2 separate regions of the Homo sapiens genome follow, and region 1 is linked to region 2. The links come from fine-mapping of genetic effects on gene expression. Tissue or cell type: whole blood. Region 2 holds a variant in brackets; the other region holds the start of a gene. All regions are shown on one strand. Distances are between the middles of the regions. Region 1 holds the start of MSH6 (mutS homolog 6). Region 2 overlaps FBXO11 (F-box protein 11).

Region 1 (8,288 bases), 63 kb before region 2:
AAAATAAAATTATCAGGGTGTGAGGACGCACACCTGCAGTCTTAGCTGCTTGGGAGGCTGAGGCTGGAGGATCAGCCTGGGCAACAGAGTGAGACCCTGTCTCAGAAAAAAAAAAAAAAAAAGACAGACTTTTATTCAGATATGCATGCAGGAGTTCACAGAAAAAAAAAGTGAGTCCAGGAGGCTGTTATTTGGCATTTATACAACTTTTTTTTTCTTGAATCTCGAAATCTACTTTATATATACCATTTAATAGGGGAAGAGGAGGGAGAAAAAGCCTTCCATGGGAAGAACAAATAGGTTTCTGGGGGAACAAAAGGGAGATAAGAATGTTTGTTTTTGCAGGTGCAAGTGGTCTTTGTCTTTTTTTCTGGCCACTAAAACTCCCCTAGAGAGGAGATTTACGGCAGCTTCACTCCCAGAAATTTCTGCTGTTAGTCGCATAAGGGAAGCTTTGAAACGGCATCTTTCTGCATCTGTTGGCTCTCAAATGTCTTCAGTTCCAAGTAACATTCATGCCAATTCTGGGGGTCTGAGTGTCCCCACATAATACATGTGTTCTCTTGTCTTTTAATGAAGTTTGTGGGAGGCATCTAACTGTAGCCTCCAAAATTTGGCCCATAGGTACTACTGTCCTTATCAAAGACGAGGAAACAAGTTCAGAAAAGTATTAATTGCTCCGAGTTATCTGCTTGGCTAGCTAGGATCAGAGCTCAGTTCTCCATTTAACCCAAAGCCCAGGCTCTTAACCTCTTACAACTGGCGCATCCCCTCTGAACCTCCATTTCCTCCCTGTAAAAGAATAACATCGGCCGGGCGCAGTGGCTCACATCTATAATCCCAGCACTTTGGGAGGCAGAGATGGGCGGATCACGAGGTCAGGAGTTTGAGACCAGCCTGGCCAACATGGTGAAACCCCATCTCTACTAAAAATACAAAACTTAGCTGGGTGTGTTGGTGCCTGTAACCCCAGCTACTCAGGAGACTGAGGCAGGAGAATTGCCTTAACCTGGGAGGCGGAGGTTGTGGTGAGCCAAGATCGTGCCATTGCACTCCAGCCTCGGTGACAGAGCAAGACTCCATCCCCAAAAAAACAAACAACAACAACAAAAAGAGAATAACGTTATATTCAGTTGAACCAAAATGAATTAAATATTAATATTTGTACTTCAAAAACGGTCCAGCTTGGCTGGGCGCAGTGGCTCCCGCCTGTAATCCCAACATTTTGGGAGGCCGAGGCAGGAGGATCATTTGAGGTCAGGAGTTTGAGACCAGCCTGGCCAACATGGTGAAATCCTGTCTCTACTAAAAATACAAAAATTAGCTGGGCAGTAGTAGCGCGTGCCGGTAATCCCAGCTATTCAGGAGGCTGAGGAAGGAGAATTGCTTGAGCTTGGGAGGTGAAAGTTGTGGTGAGCTGAGACTGCACTACTGCACACCAGTCTGGGAGACAGAGTAAGACCCTGTCTCAAAACAAAACAACCAAAAAACCAAAAAGGTCCAGCTTGGGCAACATAGTGAAACTTCGTCTCTACAGAAAATTTTTAAAATACTAGCAGGGCACCGGGCACAGTGGCTCATACCTGTAATCCCAGCACTTTGGGAGGCTGAGGCAGGCGGGTCACTTGTGGTCAGGAGTTTGGGATCAGGCAGGCCAACATGGTGAAACCGTGTCTCTACTAAAAAACAAAAATTAGCTGGGCATGGTGGTAGGCACCAGTAATCCTAGCACTCAGGAGGCTGAGGCATGAGAATTGCCTGAACCCGCAAAGCAGGGGTTGCAGTGAACCAAGATGGCGTCACTGTACTCCAGCCTGGGTGACAGAATAAGACTCCTCAATTAAAAAAAAAAAAAATTAGCTGGGCATGGTGTTGCGGGCCTGTGGTCCCAGGTACTCAGGAGGCTGAGGTGAGAGGATTACTTAAGCCTGGGAGGTTGAGGCTACAGTAAGCCAAGATCACGCCACTATACTCCAGCCTCTGTGACAGAGCCAGACCCTGTCTCAAAAAAATTTTAAAAAGGGCAAATTTTGGCAATTTCACATAGTTCAACCTAGTATAAGGTGGTTGTAATAACTAAATGAGATAAAATGGTGTTAAATTGGAAGTATTATAGTATTTCTGTTAACAACATAGGGCTCCAGAACCAGCTTCCTTGAGTTTAAATCCAGGCTCCACCACTTCCTAGCTATGCAGTCATGGGCAAGTTACTTGACCCAACTGTGCCTCAGCTTCATCCATGATATGGAGATACAGGATAACCAGCCTCTTACGTGCAATTCTGAAATCCAAAAAGCTCTGTAAACCAAAAGTTTGGGGGTAAACTCATTTGGTAGCAAATTTTGACCTGAGGCTATTTATAGTCTATATTCTGTATTCTTTCTACTTAGTATGAATAAGCATGTAAGTTTTACTGCATGTTTGATTTCAGCATGTTCCCCCAGACTCTCTGGGGGTGTTTACGTATGCCGGTGGGGGAAAGAGACCAACTCTCAAATATTATCTCAAACAGTTGGTTTCACTGTGCTTGCTTGGGTAGCACATATACCAAAATTGGAATGACCCCTGCACAGGGATGAAATGCAAATTCGTGAAGCATACTGTATTTTTCTTAGCACATACCACCTTTGGCAATATTCTTTTTTTTTTTTTGAGAGGGAGTCTTGCTCTGTCGCCCAGGCTGGAGTGCAGAGGCGCGATCTCGGCTCACTGCAAGCTCCGCCTCCCGGGTTCACACCATTCTCCTACCTCAGCCTCCCCAGTAGCTGGGACTACAGGCGTGTGCTACCACGCCAGGCTAATTTTTTGTATTTTTAGTAGAGGCGGGGTTTCACTGTGTTAGCCAGGATGGTCTCGATCTCCTGACCTCGTGATCCGCCCACCTCCGCCCCCCCCCCGAAGTGCCGAGTGCTGGGACTACAGGCGTGAGCCACTGCGCCCGGCCCCCGCCTTTTTTTTTTAGATTGATTTTATTACTTGCCTAGCAAAGGAGAACCTTCTGGCAGAACAGTCTCCAAGAACAAGGCAAACAACTAATTTTACATAGGTTTTTACCAATGTACAGCTGTTGATTGTGACTGGTTTCCGGCAATCTGGATTTCACAATCTGGATAAGGGGACAAACAATTGTCTGTCTTCCACTATCTTTCTTGAATTTGAATAGAACCTTTTTATTCTCATAGCCTCTTAGCTTTCTTTCTTTTTTTTTTGAGACGGAGTTTCGCTCTTGTCGCCCAGGCTGGAGTGCAGTGGCGCGACCTTGGCTCACTGCAAACGCTGCCTCCCAGGTTCAAGTTATTCTCCTGCCTCAGCCTCCCAAGTAGCTGGGATTACAGGCGCATGCCACCACGCCCGGCTAATTTTTGGATTTTTAGTAGAGACGGGGGTTTCACCATGTTGACTAGGCTGGTCTTCAACGCCTGACCTCAGGTGATCCGCCCGCCTCGGCATCCCAAAGTGCTGGGATTACAGGCGTGAGCCACTGCGCCCGGCCTCTCATAGTCTCTTAGCTTTCTAAAATTTGAAAAATCCTGTAAAGACACACCTGGGTCAAAGGGCTCAGATAACGGACTGTGGCCCTTAAGTACTTACGTCACAGGTTATTGAGAGGATCGATTTAGTTACCAGATGTAAAATGCTGGGATCAGTGCCTGGCAAAGGAAAACTTTGTACAGCTGCAGGCTTTCACCATACACAACAGCATCGCTAACGAATGCTATTACAATATTCATTTAGCGTTTACCAAGTGCCTACTCTATACAAATCTTGAGAATACAACGTGAAGGTGAACTGCTGACTAAAGTTTGGTCCCTTTCGCTCCGTCTCCTTGCGAAAATGCTCTAACGGCAGGAGGTCACGCGAGCGCTGGACGCGTTTCTCCCCGCGAGCCCCTTTCCGAGGCCTTTCGGGTCCCCCCGGTTATCCCCGCCCGGGCGGTGCGCGCCCCCGCTGTTCCCGCTTCCGCTCCAGAGAGGCAGGGCTTTCCGAGCCTGCTAGCCCCGCGGCCGCAACTAACCCCGGGTCGGAGTGTTCCGGCCCGGCCAGCCCCGCGGCGTGAGGGAAGGGGAGCTCAGCAGTTCCCCGCGCGGGGCCCAGGCGTCGGCGGCAGGGCGGGCCCCTCACCGCCAGCGTGCCAGCCCCGCCCCTACCCACCAGTGTGCCAGCCCCGCCCTTCCCCACGTCGCCGCGCGCCCGGGGGCGGGGCCTGGCGCGCACCGCCCGCGCACGGCGAGGCGCCTGTTGATTGGCCACTGGGGCCCGGGTTCCTCCGGCGGAGCGCGCCTCCCCCCAGATTTCCCGCCAGCAGGAGCCGCGCGGTAGATGCGGTGCTTTTAGGAGCTCCGTCCGACAGAACGGTTGGGCCTTGCCGGCTGTCGGTATGTCGCGACAGAGCACCCTGTACAGCTTCTTCCCCAAGTCTCCGGCGCTGAGTGATGCCAACAAGGCCTCGGCCAGGGCCTCACGCGAAGGCGGCCGTGCCGCCGCTGCCCCCGGGGCCTCTCCTTCCCCAGGCGGGGATGCGGCCTGGAGCGAGGCTGGGCCTGGGCCCAGGCCCTTGGCGCGCTCCGCGTCACCGCCCAAGGCGAAGAACCTCAACGGAGGGCTGCGGAGATCGGTAGCGCCTGCTGCCCCCACCAGGTAGCGGGGTGGGGGTGGGGTCGAAGGCGGGGGCATAGCGGCGGGGCGCTTGGAACCCGGCGAGGGGAGGCTCGCACAGGGGGTTGGGGGGGTGCACGGCCTGGCCCTGGGCTCGGAGGAGGCGGGGCCGCAGAGTTGGCTTGAATGAGTGCAGGGGTCGAGTCTGGAGCATTTGGGGGTGTAGCTTGTAAACAGGGTCGGAGGAGAGAGGCTGTGCAGGAAGAGGGCTGCAGGGGAGACGCGGAGAGTTCGGGCCTTTTGGAGGGAGGAGACGCGTCCCGCCAGGTGGGGGTGCTGGGCTAAGGAAGGGGCGACGCGCGCAGCTCCGGGTGGGGAGGGGGCCTGGGAGGTGGGAGCACTGGGGGTGGGGCGAGAAGGGGAAGGCGCCCGGCCCACTTGGTGGGCGGGGCGGGGGGCGGGGTGGCGGGAAGGAGGAATGCCTGCGGGAGGCCGAACGGGGAGAGTCCGGTGGTGTGGGGTGCGAAAGGAGGTTCCTCGGCCGGCGCGGAGATAGTGAGTTGGGGCTCCAGTAGTCGATCGAGGTAGACACTTAGAGGTAGTTAAGAGCCGCGGTCGCCGAGACGCCTTGGGGACGGTGGGCCTTCGGCCTAGGTGAGGGGCCGCCGAGGGGGTGGGCCACGAGCTGCGAGCGCGGGGGGGTGTGTCACCATGGGGACCGCGGGGCCTAATTGGGCGGGGCGGGGCCGTGGGGAGCCGAAGTGCTGGGATCCGGCTGGGTCCTTCGGTAGGTAGGCTGCACGTGCACCGAGACGAAGATAGAATATTTTGACGTATGTGGAAATTCGTGTCGAGTGGAAAATATTTTATTTTATGAAATAGTGTAATTTTTATGGGGCACCACTGGGCTTTTAGAGGCCTTAATCGGGCGCTGGACAAAGATGTGTGGACGTGAGTGACTCCGGGGAAGCCTGTCGGGAGTTGTCCTCACTTTATGGGCAGTTAAGTGCTTTTTTTTTTTTTTCCTTTTTGAGAGAGAGTTTCGCTCAAGTCCAGGCTGGAGTGCAATGGCGCGATCTCAGCTCACCGCAATCTCCGCGTCCCGGCTTCAAGCGATTCCCCAGCTTCAGCCTCCCGAGTAGTCGGGATTACAGGAATGCGCCCCCACACCCCGCCAATTTTGTATTTTTAGTAGAGACGGGGTTTCTCCATGTTGGTCAGGCTAGTCTCGGAATTCCCGACCTCAGGTGATCCACCCGCCTCGGCCTCAAAGTGCTGGGATTACAGGCGCTAGCCACCGCGCCCGGTCTGTTTAGGGCTTTTTATCCGGGCAGCTGGCGACATTTTGAAAAGCTTGCTTTTGCTGTTTGCCAGATACATATATATGTATTTTGAGACAGAGTCTTGCTCTTTTGTCCAGGCTAGAGTGCAGTGGCGCGTTCTTGGCTCACCACAACCTCTGTCTCTGGATCAAGAGATTATCCTGCCTCAGCCTCCCAAGTAGCTGGGACTACAGGTGCGCCCCACCACGCCTGGCTAATTTTTGTATTTTTAGTAGAGACGGGTTTCACTATGTTGGCCAGGCTGGTATCGAACTCCTGACCTCTTGATCGGCCCGCATTGGCCTACCAAAGTGCTGGGATTACAGGCATGAACCACCGAGCCCGGCCGTTTGTCAGATACTAAACACAAAGTTTAATGGTCGCTATTTGAACAAACGAAGAAATAAAGGCTCAGAAAAAATAACTCATTCAAGATAAGAGCCAGTTCGTGTTTTTTGTTTGGTTTTGTTTTGAAATGGAGTCTCGCTCTGTCGCCCAGGCTGGAGTGCTGTGGCGCTTTCTCGGCTCACTGCAACCTCTGCCCGCCGGGTTCAAGTGATTCTCCTGCCTCAGCTTCCCGAGTAGCTGGGATTACGGGTGTGCCCACCGCGGTCCGGCTGATTTTTCACCATGGAGTTTCACCATGTTGGCCAGGCTGGTCTTGAAACTGCTGACCTCAAGTGGTCCACCCACTTCAGCCTCCCAAAGTGCTGGGATTACAGGTGTGAGCCACCGTGCCCGGCCGCTAGTTAGTGGTTTTGAGTAATGGATTTCAAATCCATTTAAATCCAGTTTAAAGTGTCCTAAAGGAATTCTGAGATTTTTCTAAGTGTAATTATAGTGTTACCCTTGTTTAAGCGACCCTTTCCCGCAGTTTAAATATATATAGTTGTGCATTAGTAGAATATGCTTGTGGGGAACAGAGCCAGCATCCGCAATAACAAACTCCTGGTTAGAAAAGCATGACGTATTGTTTACTTGAGCATGAATTGATTGTTGAATCCAAACCAAACGGGTGTATTTATTGTAAGGATGTACTTTACATTCATATTGAATAGCGTATGTTATTTGTTTCTTGAGGTTGAGTTTAAGAGACTTGTAAAAATAAAACGTATACATTTCACCTCCCGTTATGGAGAGGATTCCAGGGTATTCAAGAAAGATGGGCATTTGATACTAGGTTTCTAAAGAAACTGCAGTGTCTAGATCACTCTGCCGAGCACAGCATTAGGCATTATGGATCCTGGATACAACCATGAACAGGACAAAGCAAAGAGGCAATTGTAGACTCCAAGTGGAAAGGGGACGGAGAGGATGCGGGTCAGGCTAGGCTCTCAGCTCTGTAAACCGAAACCAGAAGGACAAATAAGCTTAGACAGATTATAGTGAGAGTGGGAAGCTGGTTCAGGAAGAGGAAGGTCTGCAAATTGTGGGTAGGATGAAAGGAGGAGGAGGGAGCATTGGAGAAGTTAAGCAGAGATCCAATCATGAACAGTCTGATGAGCTACAGAGACATTCGGACTTACTCCATGAATCATTTAAGCCTTAAAACATGTTGAGCGTATTTTTTTTTTTTTTGAGACGGAATTTCACTCTTGTTGCCCAAGCTGGAGTGCAGTGGTGTGGTCTCAGCTCACTGCAACCTCCGCCTCCTGGGTTCCAGCGATTCTCCTGCCTCATCCTCTCAAGTACCTGGTATTACAGGTGCCTGCCACCACGCCCAGCTAATTTTTGTGTTTATAGTAGAGACGGGTTTCACCATGTTGGTCAGGCCAGTCGTGAACTCCTGACCTCAGGTGATCCACCCACCTCAGCCTCCCAAAGTGTTGGGATTACAGGCGTGAACCACCGCACCTGGCCGTGAGCCACCGTGTCTGTCCGAGCATCTTTTAATGTTTGTCATTTAGATTTCTTCTTGTGCTGAAGTGTTTGTCTTTTGCTGTTTCTTTTTTTTTTCCTAGTTCTTTGTCATTTGTGTGTGATATAAATGTCTTCTTTCACAATGAGTTCTTTCATTTAGTTTATGGCTTTGTTGTTGTTGTTGAATAATAGAGGTCTCACTTTGTTGCCCAGGCTGGTGTTGAACTCTTGCTCTCAAGCGATCCTCCCACTTCAGCCTCCCAACCTGTTGGGATTACAAGTGTGAGCCACCACACCCAGCCTTATGGCATCTTTCGATGAACAAATTATTGATTATAATGTGGAATTTGTCCTTTTATTTTCTCTGTGGTTAGTGTTTCTATAGGTTTTATTTAAGAAATCCACAGGGAGGCTGGGTGCAGTGGCTCATGCCTGTAAACCCAACACTTTGGGAGGCCAAGGCAGGCCAACATGGCTAGACCCTGTCTCTCCAAAAAATAAGAAAATTAG
Region 2 (8,336 bases):
AGTGGCGTGATCTCAGCTCACTGCAACCTCCACCTCCTGGGTTCACGCCATTCCCCTGTCTCAGCCTCCTGAGTAGCTGGGACTACAGGCACACACCACCATGCCTGGCTAACTTTTTGTATTTTGGTAGAGACGGGGTTTCACCATGTTGGCCAGGATGGTCTCTAACTCCTGACCTCGTGATCCCCCCACCTCGGCCTCCCAAAGGGCTGGGATTACAGGCGTGAGCCACTGTGCCCGGCCAAATTATTTTTTAAAAAGCTAGAAAATGATTATAATACAAATGCTTTTAGTGGGGAAGGAGGAGAATATCAGTTTTATTTTTATTTTTTTTTTTTGAGACAGAGTCTCGCCCTGTTGCCCAGGCTGGAGTGCAGTTGCGCGATCTCGGCTCACTGCAACCTCCGTCTCCTGGGTTCAAGCCATTCTCCGGCCTCAGCCTCCCGAGTAGCTGGGACTACAGGTGCACGCCACTATGGCCAGCTAATTTTTGTATTTTTGATAGAGACGGGGTTTCACAATGTTGGCCAGGATGGTCTTCATCTCTTGACCTCGTGATCTGCCCGCCTCGGCCTCCCAAAGTGCTGGGATTACAGGCGTGAGCCACCGGCGCCCGGCAGGAGGAGAATATAATTAGAATGGGAAACATAAAAGGCTTAGTAGTAGCTGGCAAAGTTCTAGTTCTTGCCTTGTTGGTATTACAAAGATAATACCTTAATAATAACTCAACAAGCTGTGTATTTGTGTTTTATGTAGGTTTCTCTACCTAGCTATATTTCATAATAACAAAGGTATAAAAAGGGGGGAGAGTTTGTAAAAGTGTAATATTTAAAAGTAGAGATTTCCAGTCAGCTAACCTTGGGTGTAAATTAACATTTTTAAGCCTACATTTTCTCATCTATTAAAGATAAGAGTATGTTATAATTGAAAGCTGCTAAAAACTTAAATATATGTAAAACACACAGTATGCCTGGGCTCATATGCAGAGTTCAAGAAGTATTTCAATTACTATTATTTCATTTAAATATTATTCGATTAACATCACTTTCAAATGAAACTTGGAAAAACAAGTAAATTTTTCTTTAAAAAAAAAAAAAAAAAAAGATACAGGGTCTCACTTTGTCACCCAGGCTGGAATACAGTGGCACAATCATGGCTTACTGCAGCCTGTATCTCCTGGGCTCAAGCAGCCCTCCCACCTTGGCCTCTCGAACAGCTGGAACTGCAGATGTGAACCACCACACCTGGCTAATTAAAAACAACTTTTTTTTGTAGACACAAGGTCTCACCATGTTGTGCAGGCTAGTCTCAAAACTGCTGAGCTCAAGTGATCCTCCTGCCATGGCCTCCCAAAGTGATGAGATTATTATAGCTGTGAGTCAATGTGCCCAGCTTGTAAATTTTCCATGTACTGCAGGAATCACAAAAAGCAGCCAGTATGATACGCCTAGGCATTTGTGGAACTCTCTCCCTTTGAGGTCTAATATGTGTAATTCTATAAATGTTTGTATATTAATAATATGACCAGTAAACGTCCTATGTGTGCTTGAAAGGAACATCAACACTAATTTTTAGAGTAGGGTTTAAACATGTCTAAAAAGATCTAGCTTGTTAATTGTGTTGTTCAAATAGTCTCTATGCTTACATTTTTTCACTTTTGTTGAGGGTGGTGGTGGTTTATTCATTGGCTTCTGAAGGAAATGTGCTGAAATCTCCCACCATATTTGTAGTTAATCTTTTTTTTTTTTTTGCCTGCAAATTTTTGCTTTATGTGCTTTGAGACAATATTATTTGGACACACAGATTCAAGATAACTATTTCTTCCTGGTGAATTATTCCATTCTTCATTATGTAATTAATGGCTTTCTTCATCATCTTCATTATGTAATGGCTTTCTTCATCACTAACAATGCTTTCTGCCTTACAAATCTATTTTTGGTCTATCAGCTTTCTGTTTTGGTTTGTGTCAGTCTAGTATTTTTTAAATCCTTTATTTTCAATTTCTTACTTTTATGGATTACATTTTAGATTTGCTGCTGCTTCTTCTTCTTCTTCTTCTTTTTTGAGATGAGTCTTGCTCTGTTGCCCAGGTTGGAGTGCAATGGCGTGATCTCGGCTCACTGCAACCTCTGCCTCCTGGGTTCAAGCTATTCTCCCACCTCAGCCTTCCGAGTAGCTGGGATTACAGGCACGCGCCACTACGCCCGGCTAATTTTTGTATTTTTAATAGAGACGGGGTTTCACTATGTTGGCCAGGATGGTCTCGAACTCCTGACCTCAAGGTATCTGCCTGCCTCAGCCTCCCAAAGTGCTGGGATTACAGGCATGAGCCACTGTGCCTGGCCTAGATTTGCTTATTCTTAACCATTTATTGCTAGACTTTTGCTTTTCAGCCAAGGCAAGAGTATCTGTCTAATCTGTAATTTAACCCATCTACTGCCAATTTCCATGATTATATTTTTAATTTCTAAAAGTTAATTTTTTCCAAGTTTTACTGTTTCTTTTTCACACTGATCTATTACCTCATTGCTTCATTTCCTTCTTTTATCCCTTCAATCATTTCACTCACATTTTATATTCTCTCTTAGATTGTTCTGTCATTGACTTTGTTCTTGAGTGAGCATTTGACTAGTGGGCACTTTTTCTAATCTCTATGCGTAATTAGGGAAGTTATTTCAGGCTCTAGGCCACATGCCTGGGTCTTTGTTTCAGATATATTTTGAAAAGGCCCAAGGCCATATATCCTATCCCCATATGTGCAATAAAATTCAACCCCAGACCCCTTAGAACATATGCAGGACCAAAAGCCCCCTGTGCTATATACAGCAACACTAGCTCCCGCTTACTGTTCTGATTTTATTTCTCTGATTTCTGATACCTATGAATTTTCCTCCTCTTCTTTCCTTCCTTAAAAGTTTAGTTATATGTTTATAGTTTTGTTCTTAATGCGTATTTCTTTTGTTCGTTTTGTTTTTGAGACAGGGTCTCACTCTGTCACCCGGCTGGAGTGCAGTGGTGGGATCTCGACTCACTGCAACCTCCGTTTCCCTGGCTCAAGCAATTCTCCCACCTCAGTTTACAGGTGTGCACGCCACCATGCCTGGCTAATTTTTGTATTTCTGTAGAGACATGGTTTTGCCATGTTGCCAAGGATGGGTCTCAAACTCCTGAGCTCAAGTGATCCGCCTAACTTGGCCTCCCAAAGTGCTGGGATTACAGGCATGAGCCACTGTGCCCAGCCCTTATTACATATTTCATTTTGATATGTTTGTAGTATGCATGCATGTGGGTTAATGTCTCTATCAGCTTGTTTGCCATTTCCTTCAGTAGTCAGTCCAATTCTACAACACTCAAAAGTACATTCTCAAACTTTTCATCCTATACAACTCCCTCCTCCTTTCCTCACCTTCACCTTCTTAAAATCTGTGGACCTTATTACTACAGACACCCACCCACCCCACCCTGGAATCCTTTGCTTCTCACCAAAGACACAGCAAATAGTAAAGACTGAAAAGTAAGGAATTCAGAGGTCCTAACAGGAAAGAGAAGGTGCTAATTAATTCATTTGCATCCTAAAATGTACAGCAAATAAATTCAAGAAGCTACATGATTTAAGTCATGAATACCACAGAAATCTCAACTTCCCACTTGTAAACACTGTCCTGAAGTGCTCATGAGTTATAAAATCACTGTTTTGAACTCTGCGCTGAAGAATATGTGCTAATTTCTACATAGTTCTCATATTAAATTACTACTGACTGTTCTGAGAATCAAGTACAGTGCCAGAAGTTACTTAAAAAGGGATCATTCTGGGAAGATAAGTTGGCTACTACTGTGATAAGCAGCAAAACAGAAAGCTTAAAAGAAATCTCTAGTCATTTGGGTTCGCTTCATCTTTTGAACTCCTGTAGTACTGAATATATACCGTATATACCTTACTATACCTTAGCTGCCTTATGTTATACTTACTTTTTTTATTATATGCCATATTTCCCTAACAAAATTATAAGCTCTGAGGGCGAGGCAGGGTAACAAGGGTGCCCTCTTTTATATTCTTCAGTGTTTAGCTTGGTGCCCAATCAGTACTCAATAAATACTGATTCCCATCAATGGAGAACCCTTTAATTTTACTCAATTCAGGGAGTTCTTCGTAGAAGCCATCACTAGTGGTGGCTTATCTCCTACTTTACAGGAAAAAAAAAAACCAAACAAGAACTGCCTTAACTTCCTTCCAACATCCAAATCCACAAATGCATTTACATGTAGATCCATTATTTTTTGT[C/T]CCCTCCTGAAATTATGGAGAAGTATTCCCCCAAAACAGACTTAGCATACATGAAACAAAAAATATTTGTTACATTAAATAAAAATGAATAAAGCCAACGATCCATGATAGATGCGGCAAACTGGCTCCAACCCAAGAAACACGAAATCATGGATTAGTTATGGTTTTGTGCCAACAAGTCTAAAAGCAAGACCTTAAAATAATTTTGGCCAGGCGTGGTGGCTCATGCCTGTAAATCCCAGCACTTTAGGAGGCCCAGGCGGGCAGATCATCTGAGGTTGGGAGTTCTAGACCAGCCTGGCCAACATGGAGAAACTCCGTCTCTACTAAAAATACAAAATTAGCCAGGTTTGGTGGCGCATGCCTGTAATCCCAGCTACTCAGGAGGATGAGGCAGGAGAATTGCTTGAACCTGGAAGAAGGCGGCTGCGATGAGCGGAGATCATGCCATTGCACTCCAGCCTGGGCAACAAAAACGAAACTGTTTCAAAAAAAAATTTTTTTTTAATTTTATGGTTTTCATTTTTATATCTAATAGAATATTATGCCAATGATTGTCAAGTTGTAATCAAAGACTTAAAAATAACCCTCTACCAAAAATGTTCAATTTTAACTATAATTCACAGAAAAATTTAGTTAGAAAAAATGTTCTAGACCAGAAATGTCCACCAGAAATAGAACGCAATCCACATATGTAATTTAGCTGCATTAAAAAATAAAACAGTGAAATTTTAATATACTTAACATATTAAATCTGAAATATATCATTTCAATATGTAAATATAAAATTATTACTGAGATAATTTACATTTTTTTCATACTAAATCTTTGAAAATAGTACGTATGTGTAACACAGCATGCCTCTATTCAGACTAGGCATATTTCAAGTGCTCAAAAGCCACATGCAGCTAGTGGCTACCCTTAATTGGACAATGCAGACACATACAGTCACTTATCACTTAAAGACAAGAATACGTTCTGAGAAGGCTGGTCGTGGTGGCTCACATCTGTAATCCCTGCACTTTAGGAGGCCAAGGAGGCACTTCATCTGAGGCCAGGAGTTCAAGACCAGCCTGGCCAACATGGTGAAACCCTATCTCTACTAAAAATAAAAGAAATCAGCCAGGTGTGGTGGTGGACACCTGTAATCCCAGCTACTCAGGAGGCTGAGCCAGGAGAATTGCTTGAACCTGAAAGGTGTAGACTGCAGTGAGCCGACATTGTGCAACTGCACTCCAGCCTGAGTGACAGAGTGAGACTCTGTCTCAAACAAACAAACAAAAAGAAATTAAGCACTTAGGCTATAATGGTATAGCCTACTGTTCCTAGGCTGTAAGCCTGTGCAGCATGTTACTGTACTGTACTGAACACTGTAGACAATTGTAACACAATGGTAAATAACTGCCTATCTAAAGAAAGTAAAAAGGTACAGTAAAAATATAGTATCATGGCTGGGTGTGGTGGCTCACGCCTGTAATCCCAGCACTTTGGGAGGCCAAGACGGGAGGATCATTTGAGGTCTGGAGTTTGGGACCAGCCTGGTCAACATGGTGAAACTCTGTCTCTACCAAAAATACAAAAATTAGCAAGGCATGGTGGCATACGCCTGTAGTCCCAGCTACTCAGGAGGCTAAGGCAGGAGAACCGCTTGAACCCAGGAGGTTGCAGTAAGCCAAGATCACACCCACTGCACTCCAGCCTGGGTGACAGAGCGAGACTCTGTCTCAAACGAACAAATAAACAAAATATGGTATCATAATTTTTTGGGACCACCATCATATACAGTCTGTTGTTGATGAAAACATTGTTATGTGGTGCGTGACTGTGTTAGACAGACTGTGTGTGTATATAAAAACACACACATATGGCCAGGCACAGTGCTCATGCCTGTAATCCCAGCACTTTGGGAGGCTGAGGCGGGTGGATCATGAGGTCAGGAGATTGAGACCATCCTGGCTAACACGGTGAAACCCCATCTCTACTAAAAATACAAAAAATTAGCCGGGCGTGGTGACGGGTGCTTGTAGTCCCAGCTACTCGGGAGGCTGAGGCAGGAGAATGCTGTGAACCCGGGAGGTGGAGCTTGCAGTGAGCTGAGATCGCACCACTGCACTCCAGCCTGGGCGACAGAGCGAGACCCCATCTCAAAAAAACAAACAAACAAACAAAAAAACAACCAAACACACACACACATATATATCTTTCACTAAACCTTTATCAGTTCTCTTAAAGCAGAGATCCCCAACCCCGGGGCCAGTTAGGAACTGGGCCACCCAGGAGGTGAGTGGTAGGCGACCAAGCAATACTGCCTGAGCTCCGCCTCCTGTCAGATCAGCCACAGCATTAGATTCTCATAGGAGTGTGAACCCTATTGTGAACTGCACATGCGAGGGATCTAGGTTGTGCACTTCTTATGAGAATCTAATTATGTGGTGCATGTCTGATGATCTGAGGTGAACAGTTTCATCCTGAAACCACCCACCCCTCTGAGTCCGTGGAAAAACTGTCTTCCATAAAACCAGTCATTGGTGCCAAAAAAGGTTGGGGACCACTGTCTTAAAGGATAAAAAGTTAATACGCAATTTAAAAGTATGCTATTTGCACACACATATATAATATCAAAATTTATTTTATAATTTCTAGATTTTACTACAAATCCTATGCTATAAATACACTACAATCTTCACTATTAATAGGAACCACAGAAATAAGTAAAGTCTTCTGGAAAATAAACATGTTTCTTTAATTAAAAAATAATCTCTGACATCTTTGATAATAAATGTAGCACTGAAAATTTATTTTAGGATTCAAATAAGATTCCTAACTGTCTTGACTCTATTTATTCTGAGCCTAGCAGAATACCTTTTTATATACCCTTTACCTTGAAAGTTTGCAAAAAATTATACTATTGATTGGCTGGGGTTTAAAGTCTACACATTTTAGGTTATAAAGTTAAGAGTAGTTTATGGAATTTAATTGACAGAAGTTTTTTTCCCCACAAATACACAAATTCCAATTTACTTACCCATAGTCACAGATCAGATTGGAAACTTAGGCAAATCTGTGCGACTAACAACTTTGTGTTTAGAAACAGCTCCCAGTCTCATGGCGTAAAGGAACCACACTTGACAACTGTTTCTAACACAGTTGGAAACTACCACAGCTTTTCTCTAACTGCTAAAAAAATTCACAAATGGAAATCAAGATAAAATTTAAATACTTATAAAGTTACATGGTTTACTTAAAATTTAAATATTTTATAATAGAGATCCCAAAAGTAAAGTTATAATTAAAAAAACTTTTTAAAAGCTTGACTTGCTGTAAGCAAATGTTTCTGATTTTATAGTTACATTTTAAAATTATTTATTTAGGATACTGTTACATAATACTTCCATTAATGTATTCAGTTATTAACACACATACGTTCTTACACTGAATTTTTGCCACCACAGGATCATTATACTTAAAATGACTTAAAAAATGTGCATTTTCGTTACTTAGTAACAATCTTCAAAAGCCAAATCTTGCCATGGACTGTGCTAGGTATTGGTGACACAGGTCAATCAAACAGAATATTGTATTTGCTCTTCAAGAGCCTAAGAGACAGACAACTAAACAGGCAGTAATAATGCAGTGTGTCACATGCTGATAAGGTTAAGCAGAAAGTATTGAGGGAATATTTAAGAACATCTAATCCAATCTTAGATGATGTGGGTATTGGTGTAAGATTTTCTGAAGAAAGTCCAAGCTAAGAAATGGATGACAACTGAGAGTCAGTTATGCAGAAGGAATAGTGTGTGTGAAGACCTGAAGGTGCTCATCTCCAGCACAGGTATCAAGGAACTGCCAGCTGCTCCATATGTATGGCTATACTATGTAGCAGAGGCCAAATTATAAAGGCTATTACAAACACTTAAAATAATTTAGACCTTATCTTAAAAACAAAATATGGTCACTGAAGGGTATTAAAAAGAACAGTAATGTGTTCTGATTTTGGTTTTAGGAAGATCACCCAAACAATGCAAAAACAACTGGAAATGAATAGCACTGGTGG

What was found. PIP is the estimated chance that this variant, and not a neighbour inherited with it, causes the effect.
Region 1: MSH6 starts here. The variant in region 2 is fine-mapped to the expression of MSH6 in whole blood (INTERVAL, PIP 0.90).

Annotation. Positions count from the first base shown.
Region 1 is chr2:47,778,856-47,787,143 of GRCh38, forward strand. It overlaps MSH6 (mutS homolog 6), which reads left to right and starts at 4,290. Exons shown (of 10, transcript NM_000179.3): 1 at 4,290-4,638. The coding sequence starts at 4,379. RefSeq lists silencers at 2,531-2,712, 3,863-4,342, 4,623-4,782, 4,983-5,072 and an enhancer at 3,663-3,732.
Region 2 is chr2:47,841,696-47,850,031 of GRCh38, forward strand. The region is part of intron 1 of FBXO11 (F-box protein 11); the gene reads right to left. Among named protein-coding and RNA genes, the nearest start is that of FBXO11, 61 kb to the right of the region's middle. The variant C/T (reference allele first, on the strand shown) is at 4,283.